Homo sapiens: one gene and its partner. The protein of the gene in region 2 binds, or shares a complex with, the protein of the main gene of each other region. Each region holds a gene or a part of one and is shown on either strand. Other genes may lie near its edges.

The links.
Region 1: the proteins of ULBP2 (region 2) and PIGT are in contact, whole or in part, in a cryo-EM structure (PDB 8IMY), measured with the Homo sapiens proteins. Residues at the interface, in NP_079493.1 of Homo sapiens: Leu222, Arg223, Ala224, Thr225, Ala226, Leu229, Ile230, Cys233, Ile237, Phe241, Ile242, Gly245; in NP_057021.2 of Homo sapiens: Trp453, Ser523, Pro525, Tyr526, Asn527, Cys530, Leu531, Thr534, Ala537, Val538, Gly541, Ser542, Asn545, Arg549.

The regions. Positions count from the first base shown.
Region 1 is NC_000020.11:45,411,141-45,419,478, forward strand, and holds the start of PIGT (GPI-anchor transamidase component PIGT isoform 1 precursor), read left to right. Parts: upstream 1-5,000; 5' UTR 5,001-5,016; coding exon 5,017-5,203; exon of another isoform or gene 5,204-5,376; coding exon 5,377-5,554; exon of another isoform or gene 5,555-5,677; intron 5,678-7,073; exon of another isoform or gene 7,074-7,243; intron 7,244-7,711; coding exon 7,712-7,839; intron 7,840-8,154; coding exon 8,155-8,255; intron 8,256-8,332; exon of another isoform or gene 8,333-8,338. UniProt on the Homo sapiens protein: Component of the glycosylphosphatidylinositol-anchor (GPI-anchor) transamidase (GPI-T) complex that catalyzes the formation of the linkage between a proprotein and a GPI-anchor and participates in GPI anchored protein biosynthesis.
Region 2 is NC_000006.12:149,937,117-149,945,321, forward strand, and holds the start of ULBP2 (UL16-binding protein 2 preproprotein), read left to right. Parts: upstream 1-4,897; 5' UTR 4,898-4,956; coding exon 4,957-5,041; intron 5,042-8,192; coding exon 8,193-8,205. UniProt on the Homo sapiens protein: Binds and activates the KLRK1/NKG2D receptor, mediating natural killer cell cytotoxicity.

The DNA of each region.
Region 1 (8,338 bases), on a different chromosome or scaffold from region 2:
TTCAGTTTGACAGCTAGTAAAAGATCATGACTTAAGATATAAAGTTATTTCCTCATATAGAAGTTAAAAAGTACAGGTCTACATGAAAGCTCCATCGTTACTCAGCACTGGGCTCCTTTTTTGCTCTTTTGCACATGGTTTGCATTCTTAGCAATATCTCACATCTAAGGTGGCTGTCAAAGCCCCAGCCATCATGACCTTGAGACTGGCAGAAAGCAGGAGAGGAAATGGGGGATGGGCAAAGAGGGCACAGCCAGTCTATTCCCATTTAGGAAGAAATTTTTGGAAGTTCTTTTTTTTTCCCCCAAGATGAAGTCACACTCTTTCGCCCAGGCTGGAGTGCAATGGCACGATCTCGGCACACTGCAACCTCCGCCTCCCAGGTTCAAGCAATTCTCACATCTCAGCCTCCCGAGTAGCTGGGACTACAGGCGCACACCACCATGCCAGGCTAATTTTTGTATTTTTAGTAGAGACGGGATTTCACCATATTGGTCAAGCTAGTCTCGAACTCCTGACCTCAGGTGATCCACCCACCTTGGCCTCCCGAAGTGCTGGAATTACAGGCGTGAGCCACTGCACCTGGCCAACCATCCTATAGTCTTCCAGCAGAGTCTCTCAAATCAGTGTCTCCAGATAGACGTGAACTCCTTGGCATGTCAAGTGAGGGGGTACTCCAGCCATTCTGGCTCCTTACATCCTTTTTGGAACAGAGGGCTAGTCACCCAGATGGGGAGTTTCAGAAAGGACCAGGTTTGAGAAGAAGGCCATAAATTTGGTTTGGGACATGTTGAGTTTGAGATGTCTTTGAGACATCCAAGAGGATATGTTGAGTAGGCCCTTGCACCCATGCATGTGGAATTTAGATAAGAGGATTGAGCTGGAAAAAGAAAACGATCAGTTCTCAGTGTATAGGTGGTAAGTGAAGCCATGGGTGCGAATGACAGGAGAGAATGCCCAGGGAGAGAATGCTGAATGAAAGAAGAGGTTATAGGACCCAGTCTTAAGGAACATCAACTCATTTCTCACATTCAAAAAAAAAAAAAAAAAATCAGTCCACCTCCCTTCATACATTGAACATCACCCATGGGATCAGTGACCTTCAGCCAAAATCCTAAAGCTTTTTGTGCCACCCAAGGTTGAGTGACAAGGCTGCAGTCTTCCTATTGTCCCATCCTGCTCTCACCCCTGCAGGAGGCCAGTGTAAGTATCTGTTCCTAAGTGTTTTTCCTAACACTAGTGAGAAACCTGTGGGAACTCCAGGGAAGTAGGAGTGTCCACCAGCCATTCCCTGTCTCTAGGAAGCTTGTGGAGTGAATACCTTCTGTGCAAAAGCCTCTAGGTCCAAGTTGAGATCATCCACTGAGCTGGGCCAGGGCCCAGTCCTCTATTAACTTTTGGGGTTTTTCTGGGTTGCTTATGACCTTGCTGCACATAGAAGACATAATCTCTGTCCTCTTGTGGCTTCTCTCCTTCCTTCCTTTAGAGTAGCAAGGTTCTATCTACCTCCTGTCTGACTGTGGCTGAGCCATCTCTTGGGCTGCGGCCCATGATCCCAATAGCTTTGCTGTGCAGGGCTTCTCAGCTCCCAGGATCACCCCCCTTCCTTCCATGGTGAACGATGAGAAGCTAGACTGGCTTGGTTGCCGTCAACATGTCAATAAATCTCTTAGTAGCCCAGGCACATGATGCGAAGATTGTGGGGAGCCTGCCTTGAGAGAGGGATTTACAGCCCTCTAGAGAAGTAGAATTGTTTCTGAGCCTATGGGGAGCCTTCAGTTTGGCTGCTATGAGCCCCAGCCCTGCCTGGAAAAGTCTAGTGTCAGCTGAGACCCCAGGACTACTTCCTAGTTGGGACAATAACCTTTTCTCCTGCCGAACCACAGGGGCTTGGCTGGCCTTCAGAACCATCATCTCCAGCTGACTGTTTTTTGTTTCTTTGTTTTTTTAAAAAAACTTATGGGGGTTTCAAACGTACAACAAATATAGAAAGAAAAATATCCCAGGTTCTCATCATACAGCTTAAAAAATCATCAAAATAGTACCAAGATTGTATCATCTACCCACCACATATTTTTAGTGGAAAGACATTTATGATAACTCTTGAAAGAAAGAGTAGACTATAAAACACCATATTCAATATGGTCACTTTTTAAAAAAATGATAATCTTCAGATTCACCATTTGATTATAGTGTTGCATTAAAGTTAAACCGTGGTTTATGGCAGCCCAGAGCCTAGCTGTCTGGTTTTTGAGGCCACACAGTGCCTTTGGAGGTGGGAGGAAGATCTGGAGCCAACTCTAAGTCAAGGAGCCCAGCTTTCAGTCTCCAAGCTACAGCGTGGCTTCTGATATTTGCACGGACTTGTCATAGGGTGGACATCCTGACACACTTCGGAAAGGAGGCACCACAGCTCAGAAAAAGTTTCCTTAGAAGGCTTACACTGTAGCAACCCCAGGAGTGCACAGAACTTGACACTGAACAGCATGGCAGAGTAGGGAAAATACAGAACTGTGCTATGATGTCATCTTGTTTGTTCATTCATTCACACATTACTGAGCACCTACTATGTGACAGTCACCTTGCTTAGGCAACAGAAATACTAAGGTGACCATGAGCTCTTCCAGGAGCAGACACAGACACAGGTAATGGAAACAATGTGATGAGAGATGTAGCAGAAGTACATGAAGCCTGTAGACCACTAGAGGAGGAGAAGGTAAGTCTTCACTAGAGGTGGCTGGGTCCTGAATGATGGAGATGGGCAATTTCAAAAGGAAAACAGAGAAGTACAAAATAGTCATAATGATGGCAGCTACCTTTAAAAAAGTATTATTTTGAGGTTTGATAGTGTAGACTATAGTCCTAGCTCCATCACTCATTGTAATCTTTATTATCTTAGTTTATGTACTTCTTAATAATAACACTCAAGCAACCCTATCACTTAGGCACTATTATCTACATTTACATATTAGTGCCTAGGTGACAGGGTTGAGTGTTACTATTAAGCACTTGCTACATTCCATATCCTACATGTACATAATTTCTCATCTTAACAACAACCTTGAAAGTAGGTTTCTTCATTATACAAATGAAGAAAAGTGACACTTGGGTTGATCATGCTCATATGGATTAAAGGCTGGCATAGGGATTTGGACTCCTGTCTTTCTGACATCTAAGCCCATGGCCTTCCTAATATTTCGTGTCTAATGGGGCAGGAACACTGAATGCAGGCAGAATGAAGGCATAATGAGATAAAGACATCTTTCTGACATTTCCTTTCTGGAAATGTCTGGTTGGTTGGCGCATATCTTGGCAGACCTGCCTGACACCAAATTGGCTCTTTCTAGAAGTGTGGTCATGAGTGTCACCAAGAGACTGTTCATGAAATCCTTCATGAATGTGTTTCCCATAGGGCAGGTGGAAAAACTAAAGCATGACTTTAACTTTGGAACTCCGAAAAAGTCAATAAAAAGACAAGCCAGTAAACAAAGGGGTGAGGGTGCAGAAGACTTTAACAGACCTTTCACAAAAAAATAAAAATTAAATTAAAAAATAAATGGCAAATAAGCACATGAACAGATGCTTAACATTTTTAGTTACCAGGGAAATGCAAATTAAAACCACAATGAGCAAACACTACATACATACCCAAGTGGTCAAAACTAAAAAGTACAAAAAATTAGAAACTTCAAATGCTGACCAGGATGTGGTACAATGGAGACTCATAGTTTATGGAAACATAAAATGATACATTTTGGAGAAAGGTCTGACAGTTTCTTATAAAATTAAACATACACCTGCTCTCTGACCCAGCAATTCCACTCTTAAATACCTGGCCAAAGGATATGAGAAATATACGTCTACAAAGGAGCTTGCACAGACAGCAGCCTTGTTAATAATAACCAAAAACTTTAAAAGTGCCCATCAAGAGTTGAATGGATAAATTAATAATACTACGCAGTAATAAAAAGAATTGTGGATACATGCAAGAACATGGATGATTCTCAAAAACATTCTTCCCATGAGAAAAAAAAAAGCCTTACACAGTATACATACTATATGATTTCATTTATATTTAGTTCTGGAACAGATTAATCTATTGTGGGAAAAAATCAGGGTACTAACTGCCTCTGGAAGGTGATAGAGGAGCAGGGATTGACTAGGAAAGGGTATTGCTAATTTTCTGGGGTTTTAGGAATGTTCTGTATCATGATAGGAGTTCGGGTTACATAGGTGTGTGCATTTGTCAAAACTCAGTGAATGTGTACTTTGGATTTGTGCATTTCACTGTATGTGAATTTTACATCAAAATGCAATCGAATACTGAACTCTAGTTAATTATATGCATGCTTAACTACTTAAAGGAAAGTGTACTAATGTCTGCAATTTACTTTGAAGTGCACCAAAACACAAGATGGAATGATGGATGTATAGACAAATATGTGGTAAAGTACAAGTATAGTATAATGTAAATAGTAGAATCTAGGTGGTGGAAAATAGGTTTATTGTAACAGGTGCTCATTCTTTCAATTTTGTTTGAACATTTTCGTAATAAAAGAACCACTTATTTGGGGGTTTTGCAGCAAATGGAGACACTAGAAGCTAAGAGGGGCAGGAGGTTCCTCTTACTTTGGGAAATGCAAATTAAAACCACAATGGTTTTCCCAAAAGTAATTGATCTTTTTCAGTCAATGTTTCCTCAACTATCAAATGGGTAAAATGGCAGTGAAGGAGCTTCATATTATTAAGCATTTCCTGGTGGGTGGAATACGCCATGAACTAGGTGCGGCCTCAAGCTGGTTACTCGCCCTGCCTACTCCCTCTCGTGTCCTCCCAGTACCCCCTTAGACCCACCAGCTCTGAGGGAATCTTCGCGACCTGCGCAGGCGGTCGCTCTGATAACCGCATCCCGGTTTCCGGGACGACAGCGGAAGTCACTTCTCACACGCCTTTCTTATTGGATACCGGCTTTTCATGGGGCCGAGCGCCGCTGGGTAGGCGGAAGTAGCCGCAGGCATGGCGGCGGCTATGCCGCTTGCTCTGCTCGTCCTGTTGCTCCTGGGGCCCGGCGGCTGGTGCCTTGCAGAACCCCCACGCGACAGCCTGCGGGAGGAACTTGTCATCACCCCGCTGCCTTCCGGGGACGTAGCCGCCACATTCCAGTTCCGCACGCGCTGGGATTCGGAGCTTCAGCGGGAAGGAGGTGAGGGCGCGAGATCTGACCAGGGAAAGATTTCCGTAGTGCCTGCTGGCTGGCCGGCCGTGGGATGAAGGCAAACTTTGGGGGCGGGGCCTAATTCCTGGGTAGAGTTCGGGATCCTGGGTGTGGACCCCGACGAGGTGGGGATCGTCACTCACCTGCTCCCGTTTCCCCAGTGTCCCATTACAGGCTCTTTCCCAAAGCCCTGGGGCAGCTGATCTCCAAGTATTCTCTACGGGAGCTGCACCTGTCATTCACACAAGGCTTTTGGAGGACCCGATACTGGGGGCCACCCTTCCTGCAGGCCCCATCAGGTGCAGAGCTGTGGGTCTGGTTCCAAGACACTGTCACTGAGTGAGTGCACACCTTGGGCCCTGTTGCAGGCCATGGAGGGAATGTGGCTGGGAGAGTGTTGTCATCCTGCCACTGCTCTTGGGGACAGCACTTCCAGTAGGCAGCGATTCCATGGGGGTAGAGCTGGCATTGGAAGTAAGAAATGTTACCACAGATGAATAAACTTCCCAATCCTAAAACTTTCAGACCTGAGGTAGCACATGCATATCCCTGGAGAGGCAAATAGCAAACAATTAATGCTTATTTGGAGGTAAGGCAGTAGAAAACTGGCAACTGGATAACCTTTTAAAAGGCATTCATTAATATTTTTTAAATGATAATAAATACCACGAAAGCCAACCATAACATATCTGTGGGTTACAACTGGCCAACAGGATGCTACATCACAGTGTTAGAGGAACTGCTTTTGTTTGGGAGGGGGCAGGTCTAGTTACTGTGCCTACTACAAACCGCTATTTCCCAGTGGCTGCTGTGGCTATCCTGTTTAGAATAGAACCTTTCTGTGCAGTGGTTGCAAACAGGTCTACATGGGCCACACAGGTAAGGAATGAATAAAGGTATTTTTAAAATTGACAAACACAGGAATGAGAAATATATCTCATTTTCCTCTTAATCCCACTATAAGAAATCAATAGTGCAAGTATGATATAACAAGTTTTAGGGCAATAAAAAGGAGCAGCAGGAATTGTGGCAGGCTAGAGAGTTTGTGTGACATTCTAACGAGGACAGCTCTGCCACTCAGCTTCTATGGATTGTTGCCATGTGGGAATAGAGGCCTAATGTGGTCAGAGTCAAATGTTTCTAAAAATTTTTTGTAGAAACAAGGTCTCACTATATTGCCCAGGCTGGTCTCGAACTCCTGGGTTCAAGCGATCCTCCTGCCTCAGCCTCCCAAAGTGTTGGGATTACAGGCAAGAGCCACCACACCTGGCCTCATTTTTCAAGAGATACCAGAAATCTGGAATTTAATGTGAAAATTGGCAAATTCAAATATCAGCAAGTAATTTAAAAATTTTTTGAGTGCTGTGCGGGTCAATGTTGTGCATACCAAATGAAGCATGTTTATGGTTTGAGTAGAGCTTTCCGGCTTCAAGTTTGCCATTTTTATTTGAGGCTTAAGGATTGGAGCAGTTGAAAAGCTCTGAACATAGAATTATCAAAAGCTCCTGGACAACACTAAGGAATAAGGAATAAGCAGTAACTCCCCAGCTTGCCAAGACTTTCTCTCTTGCCTCAACTCTGGCTCCCCTACCCTTTCCTGTCTACTCTGCTGTCACTGTCTTCCCTCAGCCCGTAATTGCCTGAAATGTGGAGCAAATGCTTAGAATTCTTTCTAGTGCTTATTAAGTTTTATGCTTTCTCTATTACTGAGAGCAAATCTCTTTTGATATTTCTCCAAGAAAAGAACATTAATTTAATTTGATGTTTTTATGAAATCCTAGAACAGTTGTTTTTCCCATGTTCAGTGAGCTTTTTTGGATATAAGACTTCTCACCATGATAGTAGAATCAGGACTTACCTTTATTCCCAGAGTATACACAGGGTAGTATGCATTGTTTTGCCCAGCCCAGCACATTCAAGGAAGATCAGTGAGCTCATTTCAGCTCTGATACATGAGGCGCTTTCCATGGTGTCAGGGGAAGTACATAGATGACCCAGACTGGTCCTTGTCCTCAAGTTGCTTACAGCCTAGTTAGGGAGAAAAGGTGGTCAGGACACGATGCTGCTGCCACCTAGCCATCTCCCAGGAGGGACCTAGTAAGATGCTTGGATGGTCAGAACCGTGACTGCACAGAGGAGACTGTGCTTAAGGAGGGCAGGAAAGGCTTCGTGGAGGGGAGGTAAGCACTGGAGCCGGATCATGAAGGTAGGCAGAAAGAAGTTAGCAAAGGCTTGCAAGGAAGGAAGAATCACCTGAGCAGAGACCCATGGGGATGCAGAGATGTCCAGAGGAGAGTGAGGAAGAAGGGGCTGAGTAGGATGAGACCCAGCAAGTGGGCTGGCTGGGGGCAGCAATGTTCCAGCTCCATCAACTGGCCCGTCTAATAGTTAAGAATACAGCCTCCTCCTATCATAGGTTTAGCAGCCAGCTGTGGACTTTGAAAGAGGGAGCAGAGGTAGCCCCAGGACAGTGAGTGGATTTGTGTCTCTATCCAGTGTGGATAAATCTTGGAAGGAGCTCAGTAATGTCCTCTCAGGGATCTTCTGCGCCTCTCTCAACTTCATCGACTCCACCAACACAGTCACTCCCACTGCCTCCTTCAAACCCCTGGGTCTGGCCAATGGTGAGATAACCCCTACAGCCCTTTCCTTCTTCCTCTTACCTCCTGCCCAAACCTTTGCCTCCTTTTCCCTCAGTTTCCTGCTTCCTCAGCCTGGGCTAGATCCTAAGTCCCCTGTGTGTGCAGGCCCCCAATACTGTGCCATCTCTGCATGCCTTTTCCCAAGGAGAGAAGGGAGTCCTACTCCCAGTTGGGACTGTCCAGACTGTGGTGCTAGAGGTGGTGTGGGGAGCAGGAGGGTCATTCCCATCTCTGGAATGTGGATCCCGAGGGGTCAGAGCCCAAGGCCCACCCCAGACAGACCTCTGTCTCCCTCAGACACTGACCACTACTTTCTGCGCTATGCTGTGCTGCCGCGGGAGGTGGTCTGCACCGAAAACCTCACCCCCTGGAAGAAGCTCTTGCCCTGTAGTTCCAAGGTGAGGCCGCAGAGCCTGGCAGCCGGGGGCGGGGGGTGTATAGAGAACCTGCGCCCCATGCCAAGTGCTCCATACAGGGCTTC
Region 2 (8,205 bases):
CTATGAAAGTCTCAGAAGAAAGCAGAGCAGTAAATTTTTGTGACCCCGGATTTGGCTAATGCTTCTTAAGTACTGTATGCCAGTAGCATAAATGACAAAATAAAAGGTAGTTTAATTTCATTTCATGCAAATGTAAAACTTTTGTGCTTCAAAAAGGACTCCATTTAGGTTAAAAAAATCCTTATAGAATGAGAGAAAGCATTTGAAAATCGTATATCTAGTAAGGGACTGGTATCCTGAATACATAAAGAACTCTTGCAACCCAACATTATAAAGCAAAATAACCCAATTTAAATATATGCAAAGAATTCAAAAAGATGTTTCTCCAAAGTGAGACAGGTATAATACAGTGTGGTCACAAAAGAAGAAAAAAACTTTAGGCAGCAGTTTCAGGTGACTAGCAAAAGGAATCTGTTGAAATATCTGCAGAGGCTCTGGGCTGATAAGACCCTAAAAGACAGGGTATGGACCAGGCTGGCTAAGAATGAGTGGACCCAACATGGCCCTGGGTTTGGCCTCGGTTTCACCTAGGACCCTATTATACACTAATTGACATACTAAACGCACACACACCAGCGTCTTGGCAATTCAGAGAACACCAATATTTGGTGTAAAAATGGGTGGCACCACAGTTCTGAGCAGTCTCCACCTTCTTTTAGGAATTTTCATGAATATTCCACCCCTTGTTAAAGAAACCCAGAAAGGTGGCAGCCCTAAACCCCCTTGCACCTGCCTCTCTCTTGAGTTCCCCTGCATTCCCTTTACATGAGTGTGTACTTTCCCTTTTACAAAAAAATCTCCGTCCTTTCTCTATTTTCCTACTGGTCCTAGAATTCATTTCCCCAGGCGGTGTCAAGAGCCCGACACCGGCTGGGGTCGAGGTCTCATCAGAGTTTGGGGACCACCGGTTGCCCACTGGCATCGGAAGAAGAATGCAAATGGCAGTGAGCCCAGGAAAAGGTGCTCAGTGTCCACAGACCTCAGGGAAATGCCAACAGCACCCACAAGGGGACGCCTCACCCCGCTGGAATGGGTGACCCCAAACACTGTGAGGCTGGAGGGGGTGGGGCCTGCGTTCCTTACAAGGCAGAGAGCAGGAGACTGAGAGTTGGTGGAGTGTAGGGCTGTTCCTGTGTCATCCTCTTCCCATTTTCCTGGCGGAGGTTTCTCTTTGTTCTCTGGCCCTACCTGCTTCCTTCCTCTCCCTTTCTCTGGTTCTCCCTCCCGTCCTTCATTTCCAACCATCCCAAGGTTTTCTCTGCCTCAAGACGTCCATGCTCGGGGCCCCCAGCCCAGTGGAGAAACCAGGAGCCCTGGACCGCGAGCGGCGGGGTCGGGGAGGCGACAACGGGAAGCCCCTGTTGGATCCTGGGCACTCAGGACCTAGTGCGCCATGGGCGCCCTCCCGCAGCAGCCCCAGGGCAAGGAGGATGGGGGTCCTCGTGGGGGCCACACTGTCGGATCCCCAGGGATCCGAGCGGGACTGTGACGTCTCCACACTGAGCCGGTGGCAAAGTCGCCGCGAGGATGAAGGAGGAACCTCGTGCTCTTCACCCCACCAGGCCCCGCATTTCCTGTCTCCTGCCACGGTTCCTTGTCGCGACCGGCGAGTCCTCCCAGGTCTTCGAAAGGCCGTTTTGTCCGGAGGCTGTGGACCCGGAGGCCCGGGAGCATCGGCGGGCAGCGTGGCACCCACTCGGCGGTCTCAACCGGGCAGGACCCGGGTCCGGAGCTCGGGCGAAGCGGGCGTCCTGGGAGGAGCGCGCAGAACCCGGAGAGGACGCAGCAGGGTGAAAACTGAAACCGCATATGCGAACTGTCTCCGAAAGTCATCTGCGGTTGAAATCAGAAATCACCTATAATATCCCCTTTGTGACAACACCGTTGGGTAAATATCTAGAACCGGTGCCTCGTCACTGCAGCAGCCCCGCACGCAGCTGCCCGGGTTCCCCTCCCCGGACCCTAGTGGCCCCCAACAGATCAGGCGGGCCCACCGTGTGACCGTCCCTGGGACTCTCGGCCCCACTCTTACTTACTACTTCACCTCCACATTTTCACCTGTTTCAGAATCAAAACCCTGAAAAGTCATGTGTGAAAGGCTCCCCCGCCCCTGCCTGCGTCCACTCTCATTGGCCACACGCCAGGGAGGAAAGTTTATTTGATTCTTCTCATCTTTCCAGGGAGTCTTTATGCCGTTTCAAACGAATATAAATACATATTCTCAATTCAGACGCGGATATTTTTGACCCTTGATGAACCCTGTCACCCTGTCCTTCAGGAAGCCTGTACCAGTTTCCCCTCCCTCTACGGTGGATGTTTCACCATCCTCTGCCCAAGCTGGGTCATCACAATCACAGACAAGAGTGTCGCCAGCATTGCCATCCTATGACATGAGATGCTTTAAAGGTGCATTACTTCGCACAGCAATTCTGTGTCTGGAAATCTATTCTACACAATGAAATTGTGATTCATGCAAGCACAGTTTCTGCAGCATTTCGCTTCTCTAAAAGTCACTGGAGACCGTCTGGATCTTCAGACACAGACACTGGTTACTTTTGTTGTGATGCAGTCATTCTATGTAATGTGCAGAGATAAAAAGGAAAAAATCTGTATGTGCAGGTATTGCAAGATCTTCAAAGTGTGTTATTTTGAGATAGAATCTGTGTTCAGCAGAGTGCCTATGGGTTTATATTTGTTTTAAAAACCAGAATTGATACATAAACACGTATCTACTGTTAGTAAGGAAAACAGTATTTCCATAACTTATTGCCAGTCTCTTTATCCATTTTAGGAAAAATCGATATACTTGAAAAGCCACGGTGGCAGGAATTGGTCATCACCCACCAGGATTCTACACTGCCCTACAGGTGATCCCAACTGAGGTTGCCAGAGGAACAGGATGTGGAATGCAGTCGCGTTTCAGAGAGGAACCTAAAGTCAGAATGGACCAGGGGTCTTGCCCTGACCTCTGCCTCTTCACCCAACCCCCACCTGGTCAGGCAGTGACCCTGGAGGGGCTGGGATGATCCTGGGAGAGCAGTGAAATGGGGAGCCAATGGTGGGAGCATGGTGAACATGGAGAGCCCAGACCCCACACCATCTGGGGAGGAGCTCATGTGATGCTGGGAGCACTGGGAAGACAGGGAGCCTGGACACAGCACTCACTGCTCCTCCCATCTGGGACAGGATTGGGGTGGGTGATGAGAAAAGTTTCCTGAGTAACACAGTTCCCAATCCTGGCAGAATAACTCACCCCAGTTGCACTCACAGCCAAGACCCACTCAGCCCCTGGACCAGTCTAACACAGGGCTTGGTAAATCCAGGAGTGAATACTACTGAGGCATCTGCCAGGGCATAGGAAACAGTAACAAGAGGACGGCTCAGCTAGTGGCTCAGACTATCTTGCCCCACACTCTCCAATATTGAGTAGGGAGTAAGCCTTGAGCCCAGGAGGTTGAGGATTCAGTGAATTATGATCGTGCCACTGCACTCCAGACTGGTGACAGAGTAAGAGTCTGTCACACATGCTTACACACACAAATTAAATTGTGTGAGCAGTTGTCACACAGGGAGATCTGGATGCACTCACTGTGGACCCAGGTCTCAGCGAGCAGGAGGGTGTTCTGTATTGTGGGAACATGAGGGACACGCATGGGACCGGGCATTTGTGCCTAGCTTTGAAGGGTGGCTGGCCCTTTGCCCAGGGCGAAGAGGCCAGCAGAATGCACTAACAGTGGGGAACCACCAGGAACTTTCACTTGAACCTGCTCTGCTGAGCCCCCTGTGCCATCCGTGGACCTGGGCGAGGGAGGCTGCTGAACTGGGAGCTCAGGGCCCATCTCTCTGAGGAGCTTTCTAAATCAGCAAGTGTGTCACAGGTTGAGATTTTAGGAACGGGGTCCTCCATGTTGTCCTCGATTTTAATAAGTAGACTCTTTTGGCCAATCTGCATTGGGCAGAGCAGGAACAAGACATAATTTTTTAATATATATTTTTAAAGCTGTTTAATTTTGGTAAAAACATAGAAGATAAAATTTACCATCTTGACCAGTTGTTTAGTGCACAATATGTTGTTTTAAACCTCTGGAACCCTGCCTGCTGCTCCTGTAATAAAACCTAGCCCGGGCCAGGCGCGGTGGCTAACGCCTGTAATCCCAGCACTTTGGGAGGCCGAGACGGGTGGATCACCTAAGGTCATGAGTTTGAGACCAGCCTGGCCAACAAGATGAAACCCCATCTCTACCAAAAATACAAACAATTCGCCGGGCGTGGTGGAGGGCGTCTGTAATCCCAGCTACTCCGGAAGCTGAGGCCAGAGAATCCCTTGAACCCGGGAAGCGGCGATTGCGGTGAGCCGAGATCACGCCACTGCACTCCAGCCTGGGCAACAAGAGCGAAACTCCGTCTCTAAATAAATAAATAAATAAATAAATAAATAATAAAACCTAGCCCGGACTGTAATCACGTCCACTGGGAACTGGCGCAGTAGTGGAGGGGACGCGATCAGGCCCGTGGCTGCGCCCAGAGCATGATAAGCCAGGGACCTCGCGGCGCAGGCGGAGGGAGGGAGAGCGTCGCGGACCCAGGCGGGGACAGGGAGACGCCGCCGCCGCTGAATATTCCTCTGCAAGTTTCTTCACCTTCAATAAAAAAATGTTGTGATGATTAAATGAGTCTGTCGTGGAAGGAACCGTGTCTTGGCAGGAGCCGGGCGGACACCCAGACACCAACCCGAAGGGGGTTGGGACAAAGGGGAGGGACGCCCGGGAAGGGGAGGGACACCGTCAGGGCAGCCAATCATATTTCTAGCCGCGTGACGCTATGACCCGCTTGACGCTATGACAGCGGGAAACGGGGGGCGCGCCCGTACATAGGGAGGCTTTAAAACCTTGAGGTGATTCATCTTCCAGGCTCTCCTTCCATCAAGTCTCTCATCCCTAGCGCTCTGGGTCCTTAATGGCAGCAGCCGCCGCTACCAAGATCCTTCTGTGCCTCCCGCTTCTGCTCCTGCTGTCCGGCTGGTCCCGGGCTGGGCGAGCCGGTGAGTTCGTGGATGGAGCCTAAGCCGGGCGGGGACCAAGCCTGGAGGGCTGTGAACTGCCGCGGGTTTCAGAGGAGGGGAGGCTTCTAGAAGGACGGGGGAGATCTCCCCTAACTGCGCCCCCGTTCAGTTCCGGTCGGCGGCTCCTTCCTGCTGGGTGCAGTCCCCGAGGCTGCTTCTTGCCCGGGAAGAGGCGAAAAGGAGCGGGGTGGAAAGGAGGCTGGCAGGAGGGTGGAGGGGCCGGAGGGCTGCAGAGAGCGAGGTGGGGCGGGGATCCCTGGTGCAGCCTGGCAGTCCCACCCGCCCTCGGGAAGGAAAAACCAGAGCCCCCGGAACCGGAGCTGGGGACAGGACAGGGGTGAAGCGGGATTCCACAGGGACGCGATCACAGACACCCCCACCAGCCACAGGCCTGCTCTGCTCTCACCCGCTCTCCACCACACAAACCCTCCAGCGCCCCCAGGGCTGCGTGCCCTTGAATTTTTCCCTGCACTTTCCTGTAGACACTCACCTGCACCCAGGGGCTCAGCAGACAACCGCCACCCCTCCCCTCACCATCCACTGCCACCACCCAGGTCACGTCCTCTTACTGCCCACCTCAGCCCAGCTGGTCACCCCAGAGGTCTCCCCATCCATGAAGGGGACCTCACCACCTCCTACACCACGTCGCACCTTCTGCCTCTTGCCTGAGGACACACCCCAGCAAACACACCCCAAGCTCCCCTCAGAACCTGTGCAGGGGGGATGGGAAGCACCATTTCCTCCAGGATGACCCTGGGAACTCTGGTGAGTAGAGGCACCCACTTCTGCCCTTGGGGCCCAGACCGCCTGTTCTTCCTACGGGGGTGTCAGCGTCATAGAGAATAGTCACTGTGTAGACAGGGGTCAGCAAACTCTTTCTAGAAAGGGAGGAAGGATGCCCTGTGATCTTTGCAGGCCGTGGGTTCTCCGTCTCAGTGTCCAGTCCTGTCCCTTTGTAGAGCAACAGCAGGCAATGGCAACCTTCAAATAGGGGGGACCAGATTTGGACCCTGTCCTAGGTTGCTGATCCCAGATCAGGGGATTACAATGTCCCAGTGAATAGTGCCCCATCCCCTATGGTGTCATCTCCAAGTGATGTCTCTGATGTCAGTTGGAGAGTAGAAGGTGGTCCTACCTTGTCTGTGGCTTCTGGGTGGTGTGGATGTGATGGGAGTGGGGGTCCCATAGTTGGGGGCTTATTCTCCCCTCCTTTGTGCTGAGTGGCATCCACGGGGACCATCAGGTACCCTCCCTGAAGCCTCAGGTGTGAGCTGAGGGTGAGGGGGTGCAGCCACGTGGTGTCCTGGGGATCGGGTCCAACTGCTTGTGCAGCTTCTTGGTTCCCGGTGGCCCTGCTCCTGCCCATCCCAGAAGAACCACCTGCGTCTTCTCACTGCTGGGCCTAACTTCCTAATGACCTAGAGGGTGAGGAGCCCACCAGTAATGGGCAGCTCTGAGGCCTTCAGCAATAGGCATCCCTAAGCTTCATTCCATTCTGGTGCCTTGTCATGGGCCTTCTTTATATGCATGGCAAAAGGCCCCATCTCTGCCAAGGTGCAGTACTCTACAGGAGCCACTGCTTAATGTTGCGATTTCCTTGCTGTGAGTGGCATTGCCTTGTCTCTGAATATTCACATGGAATCTCTGTTGTGATTCTCCAATTAGACATTGTGACCACATGTACCTCTAGGGTCTTAGGGGGTCTTGGGTCATTGGGCACTTAAGGTAGGTCCAGCCTCGCTCATCATGCATGGATTGTCTATGGCTGCTTTTGAACTTCAACAGCAGAGTTGAGTAGTTACAATGGAGAATATATTCCCTGCACACCTTTACATGTTTACAAAATTGCCCTTCACAGCAAACTCTACTGGCCATAAATATCTTTGGAGAAGGCCACAAGGACTCACTGTCCTGGCTGCAGGGTTAAAGGGTCCTTCCTCACTAGAAACTGGTGTCTTCTTCTAGTCATGGGTTCAGGGTCTGAGAAGTGGCTTCATTCTGCAAATTAGGCAAAGCAGCCTCGTTCTTGATGGACTGGCTACTTTCAGCCTCCTGATTTGGTTTATCTCTGTTTCTTGTAATTATTTAAATCCAGCAGTATCTGGGGTGGGTTTGCATCTCTTTTGGACCTTGGACCCCTTTGTTCTATGAGCCATGGGCATAACTTTGTATAACTGAGGTCCCCAGCTGGCATTGTGACTTCTCTAATCATTTCCATCATTGCACCCTCCTTGCTCCTGACAGTTGACAGCCTCCACCTGGAATTTGGAATTTCAGAATTGTTCATCCCATTACTCTGGGAGCAGATTTCAGGAACAGCATCTCCTACCCCCAACCCTGGCCTTCAGCAATAGGCATCCCTAAGCTTCATTCCATTCTGGTGCCTTCTCATGGGGCCTTCTTTATATGCTGGGTAAACAGGAGTCCTCCAGGTTTCCCATAAGCACAGTGGATGGACATTGTTCTGGATTTTCACACTTAGACCCCTCTGGCATGGGCACTTCTCTGAGCCTGTGATCTCTCCCTCCACTACCTGCCTTAGACTTTCAGATTTTCCATTTCTTGCTGTGTGGACCATCTCTTTGTCCAAGGTTTCAGGAAGGCCTCCTCATAGCAGATGCATGCCATCACCAGGGGCTTTGCCAACATGTTAAATCCTGTGGCCATGATAATTAACTCTTCTTTATCCAACGGGGTTCCATCCTCACTCTGTTCAACCAGCACCAGCATCCACAGGGGTGGACCCACACCCTCTCCCACCTCCCGCAGTCCACGTGGGCTACTGCTGAAGATCCTCTGCCATCCAGGCCCTTCCTCCTCTCTTGCTAGAGAGGCCTGGCACCTTTCTAGCAAGGTCACGTGTTGACTGATGTGGGCAGAGGGGCAGTGGGACATGTCTGGGGACATGTGGTTTCTCAGCAGACAGAGACTTCCTCCTCCTCCTCCTCCTTGTCCTCATGCAAGGGGCGAGCACTCGCCTTAAACTTGTAGACACCACAGTTCTGGAGGGGGCACTCCTTCCTGGGCCAGCCCAGCCTGCCAGAGGCATCCTCTTATTGACACAGCGTGGAGGGGGGCTAACTAGGGGTCTTTTCCTCCCCACCCACCCCTCACCTGCCTTTCTCCACAGACCCTCACTCTCT